Linked DNA regions of Homo sapiens: region 1 is linked to region 2. Evidence: fine-mapped expression QTL. Tissue or cell type: nasal epithelium. Region 2 holds a variant in brackets; the other region holds the start of a gene. All regions are shown on one strand. Distances are from middle to middle.

What was found. PIP is the estimated chance that this variant, and not a neighbour inherited with it, causes the effect.
Region 1: CACNB4 starts here. The variant in region 2 is fine-mapped to the expression of CACNB4 in nasal epithelium (TOPMed, PIP 0.94).

What each region holds. Positions count from the first base shown.
Region 1 is chr2:152,097,690-152,100,484 of GRCh38, reverse strand. It overlaps CACNB4 (calcium voltage-gated channel auxiliary subunit beta 4), which reads left to right and starts at 1,441. Exons shown (of 14, transcript NM_000726.5): 1 at 1,441-1,536; 2 at 2,072-2,155. The coding sequence starts at 1,474. RefSeq lists a silencer at 1,243-1,532.
Region 2 is chr2:152,072,456-152,075,250 of GRCh38, reverse strand. The region is part of intron 2 of CACNB4 (calcium voltage-gated channel auxiliary subunit beta 4); the gene reads left to right. Among named protein-coding and RNA genes, the nearest start is that of CACNB4, 25 kb to the left of the region's middle. The variant A/G (reference allele first, on the strand shown) is at 1,641.

The sequences.
Region 1 (2,795 bases), 25 kb before region 2:
GATTGTATTTGGAATACTTGGGTATTGATGACTAGACCTGCCTGCTTGCTGGAAGGTTTGTATAGAGAGATCAAGATGGAGAAATGAGATGGAGAGTGATCAGAAATGCAGGAGAGGCTGAGTTGTTGGACCATGGAGTTTGGACTTTATCTTAGAGAAGAGTGACTTGGGCAAGATATTTTAGGAAAATGGTTTTGCCTGTAGTGTGTAGATGGAATGAAATCTCTGCGTGTGTATGTGTGCATGTGCATACGTGCACATGCACCAGGAAGCCTGGAGGCAAGGACATTAGTTATAAGATTGTTACAGAGGTTTGGATTAAGTGAAGGGATTAGGAATGGAAAGGAAGTGTCTGGTGGATGGTAAGATATAACCAGGACCTCAATAAAGCCAAGCAATTATTAAAACAAGCATGGTAGTTGTGTCCATAAACATAAAGTCCTAGAATGCAAGCTGATTTAGCGATTTGAGATAGTAAGTATATTTTAATTTAAACGGAGTCTCTTTATTTTTGAATTTGCATATACTTTTCTTCCCTCTTCTTATTCCTCTGTCAATACCTCGCACTTATTCTTCCTTTCCGCAATCCCTCTCTTTTAATTTGATCACAAATTAATCTCTTGTATGTATTTACAGGAGGAAACCAATGGCAAACGTTGTGTATGGTTGCAAGGATGAGTTTCTCCCCCTTGAAAATATCCATTCGCATAGAAATGGGAGGCACAGTGACCAACTCTTGCTTCTTAGCAGGTCTAACATGACCTTCAAAACTCCGTAGGACATACTGGTCTTTGGCGGGGCAGCATCTCCCGTCAGACTCAGGCTGGCTGGGTTTCTCACAGCTGCCTGGATGTGTGTGACTCGCAGCTCTAAGGACAGAATTGCCAAAGCAATACAAAAACACGGACGAAAAGCAAGCCACAAAACCCCATGCCTTACACATTAGGCTGATGAGTGAAGTCGCGGAAGGTGGCTCTGCTCTTGCCCTTTTAAAATTCCAGTGCAGCAAACACACACACACACACCCGCTCGGTTCTTCCCATTCCCGCCACACTGCACCAGCTTCCGTCCCCAAGTCCTGATTCATGAACCGTGCCACCTTTGTCTCATTTTAAACTGTGCAGACTATTTTAATCTTGCCACCCCCATCCCAGATTTCCCCCTCCCTTCATCCTCTGGAAGCTCTGATGTAAAGCGCTTGCTAGGTGGGAGAGCGCTTCTCCCAATCCGCTCGGGTAGGCGAGTTTCCGAGAAGCCCCCTCCCCGGGACCCCGCCGCGAGCGCGGGGGAAGCGCCTCGGTCCCTTTAAGGTGCCGCGCTCTCCGAAGTGCGGGCAGGGAGCCTGGGCGCCGGCGCGGGTCCTGGAGCCGGGTGGGGAAGTCCTGCGCCCTCCCCCTCCGTCCGCAGCCCAGCCTCGGGGGCCAGCCCCCTCCGCCCACCGCACACGGGCTGGCCATGCGGCGGCTCTGAACGATGTCCTCCTCCTCCTACGCCAAGAACGGGACCGCGGACGGGCCGCACTCCCCCACCTCGCAGGTACCGCCCCCTCCTCCCCCTTCTCCTCTTCCTCCTCTTCCTTCCTCACACCTCCTCCGCCGCCCTAGCGCGCCCCGCCTTCGTGCCGGGCGTGCGGGGCCCCAGTCCCGGGAGTCGGCGGCCCCGCTCCCCCCACCCCTCCTCCACGTCCCTTTCTCCTCCCGCTCCTCCTCTTTCTCCTCCTTCTCTTCCTCCTCCTCCTCACCCTCCTTCGGGTCTCTGCGCTCCCGCTCCGGAGCCCGCAGCCTCCCCCAGCGGATGCCGGGGACTCGGACCCCGCACCCTGAGAGTCTTTGTTAATGGATGTGGTGGGTGCTTGCGGGCTGCTCTTCTCGAGCATCTTTTCAGCAGTCGAGGCTTGCAGTGGGTGGGTGGGGGTGGGGGCTGTATTTGGGAGTCGCGGAGGAGACTTGGGTGCGGGCTCTAGGGGACCCCAGGGAGCGGGTCCGGAGGCGGACTCCAGCCGGGGGTGGTCGCCCCGCTCTGCGCTGCGGTCCTCACCGGCTTCTCTCTGGCCCCCGTGTGTCGAGTCCAGGTGGCCCGAGGCACCACAACCCGGAGGAGCAGGTTGAAAAGATCCGATGGCAGCACCACTTCGACCAGCTTCATCCTCAGACAGGTATGAGAAGGAGGCGGGAGACCAGGATGGGGAGGAGGCCGAGCGCGCGGCGCGGGGGTCCTGGAGCCGGCCGTGGCCCACACGTGCGGGAGCTGCGGGTCAAGCCCGCGCGCGTCTCTTCCCGGCCTCGGCCGGTGCTCGGGCTCAGTCCCTCTCCCTCTAGCCTGGGCTCTTGACGTCTTCGCGTCCCGGCGTCTCCGCACCGCCCCGGGAAGTTAGTTTGTGCATGTGTGTGGACAGTTCGGTGGGGACCTGGCTTAAGTCAGGGACGTTGAATTTAAGAGCTGGAAATATGTCTGGTTGTATCTTTGGTGCGTGGAGAAATGTCTTTAATTCGTATAACTCGACCTAGAGTAACCAGACCCCTCGGGGCCGGGGACCTGGTTTGATTCGAGTTGAGATTTAGTGGTTTCTTCTGTTTTGTCCTAATTTGAATACTCTTATCTGTCTGGATCTTGGGAGAGATCGTCAAGCTCCGGTCAAAAGAAAGACACTGAGCAGAAAGTTTACTCTCACTTTAGGACCGCTTCTTGGATTCGCTTAGTTAGGGAAAGACAGCTGTATCTGGTTAAATAGGAATTAACGAAGGCCAGCACTCAGCTCCGGGTCTGGGTGCGCCTTCACTTCGTGTTTGTTTTCT
Region 2 (2,795 bases):
ATGGACTGAGTCCATGTTCTATCACTTTCTGTTTGTGTGACCTTAGGCAAGTAATAATGTGAAATAAGGATGATAATGCCTGCCTTGTAGGATGGTGTCAGAATTTTGAAAAATGAAATAATATATGTAGATATTGGATGCAAATTATTCTATTTAAAAGCACATCTCACTGTAGCTCTTCTTTTCAAGCAGGGTGGTGGCCATAATATGTATCGGTATTTGCCTTCCACTTTCAGAGACTGGTGGGAAGTCTGACATTTTAAAGCCTCTGCCTGTTTCTCTGTTTGTTGGGGGAACATCCTAGAGTGATGATGGTAATACTGGTGATGGCAGTGAGGGTGGTTGTGGTGATCACGGTGATATTAGTGGTTATGATGGTGCTGTTGATGGTCCTGGGTGTCAGGGCAGGGGTGGTGATGATGAAGATGGGGCAATAGTGGTGACTGTAGGATGGTGATGGTGCTTGGTAAGGGTTGGGTGGAGGTGAAGGTGATGGTGATGATAGAGGTGGTAATGGTGAGGGGGTGATGGTGATGATAGAGGTGGTAATGGTGAGGGGGTGATGGTGATGATAGAGGTGGTAATGGTGAGGGGGTGATGGTGATGATAGAGGTGGTAATGGTGAGGGGGTGATGGTGATGGTGGAGAGGAGGGTGGGGACGGTAGTAGTGATTATGCTGTGGTGACAGTGGTGACGGTTGTGGTGGTGCTGCTGGTGGTGATGGTGGTGGCAGTAGCGGTAATGGTGGTGATGGCGGAGAGGAGGGTGGGGACAGTAGTAGTGATAGTAGTGATTATGCCACGATGGCTTGGTGATGGTTATGGTGGTGGTGCTGCTGGTGGTGATGATGGTGATGTTGGTGATGGCGGAGAGGAGGGTGGGAATGGTAGTAGTGATTATGCCATGATGGTAGTGGTGAGGGTGCTGGTGGCGGCGATGGTGGTAAAGCGGTGATGGTGGTGATGTTGGTAATGGTGATGGTGGTATTGGTATAAATGGGGGGGTGCTGATGGTAGCTGTGGTGGAGATGGCAACGATGGTGGTGGTGATGGTGGTAGTGTTGGTGGTTCTTACCCTGGGTTCCTCACCTCTGTTGCTCAGCCTGCCTGTTGGGATTCATAGCCTCCTGGAGTGATGACTGCATAACATTGTTTTCTTTTGTTTTGCCATTCCTCCCCTGCCTGCCTGCCTTATTCTGAACTCAGTCCCCTTCACATGGGCTTACCTAGGACTCTTCAGCTGATTCTCAGCCTTTGACCCTGGACAATAGCTTTGGATCCAGCACAGCATCCTATCCTGCCTGCCCCTATCCCCTGCCTCTTACAGTCCTGCCTCTTCTGGTCCTACATCACTGCTTTTCACCTAGAAGCTAGGGACATTTCCTCATTAGATGAGGCCGTTGCATTGTTGTCAAATAAGAGCGTTTAATGCTAGAGGATTGCATTTGTTATTGAAGGGAATGCTCCAAGTTCTGAGAGCCCTGCTCTTGGAGAACACAGCTGGCAGTGGAGAATGGACTTTCTTTTAAGAGTGAAAGCAGATTGACAAATCTGCCCACCATTATCTCTTTTGTTCCATTTTTAAAATGTATTTTTAATTATTTTTGTAGATTGTTTTCATTATCCTGCACTGTTTTCCA[A/G]TCCCTTAACATTACTTAACCTGTTTATTTAAATACTTAGCAATCTCTGCTTGTTCCAATTCATAATCATCCCATTCTTATGCTAACTTATGCCAGCCTTGGGGATGGCACTAGAATCTGGGGGTGGTGGCTAAATTCTCATGTAAACATAGCAAAGCACGATTGCCAGTTTACTACACAGGCGAATGGCATTGAGCTAAAGCATTCACTTCAAAGAGGAGGATGCTTCTAGGTATATTGAATTTGGCATGGGGTGATGGGTGAGGGTTGGAGAGGGAGATGTGTTTGGACCTTGGATGACAAGGAAGATGGTCTTTCCTTCTCGACTGGCTCCCTTCAATAAGGAAATCATTATGCTGGATTTGAGATGTTTCAGTTTGCTGATAGCTGACTTCCGTCTGCTCTCCTGGACCTTATTCTCTCTGCCAACTGCACAAGTAAATCTATATAGATTTCTTCCTGATGCCATTTGTGATATATTGCTCCCTGAAAGCATTTTCCTGATATTTTATGAAAATCCTTGAATTGGCCCTAAATTCTGGTAGTAGAAAGAGCATGATATTTTCAGCAAAAGCGTAAGTTCAAGGTCTAGCTTAACCATATACTAGACCAAGCCACTGAACTTGAATTTTAGTTTCCAACCCTATAAAACAGAGGTAATTGGCCAGGCATGGTGGCTCACGCCTGTAATCCCAGCACTTTGGGAGGCCGAGGCGGGCGGATCCTGAGGTCAGGAGATCGAGACCATCCTGGCTAACACGGTGAAACCCCATCTCTACTAAAAATACAAAAAAAAAAAAAAATCAGCTGGGCCTGGTGGTGGGCGCCTGTAGTCCCAGCTACTTGGGAGACTGAGACAGGAGAATGGTGTGAAACCGGGAGGCGGAGCTTGCAGTGAGCCGAGACCATGCCACTGCACTCCAACCTGGACGACAGAACAAGACTCTGGCTCAAAAAAAAAAAGAAAAGAAAAAGAAATGGAGGTAATCAACTTCTGTGCCTCATCATAAGGTTTTCATAAGCCTTGTTTGAGATATTACCAGTGAAAAAGGTTTATAATGTTAAAAGATTACTATAACTGTTACTAAATTTGACTTACGATATTATCTTGAGGCATGAATGCTCTTTAACTAGGAATTTTGTTGTTTAGGAAAA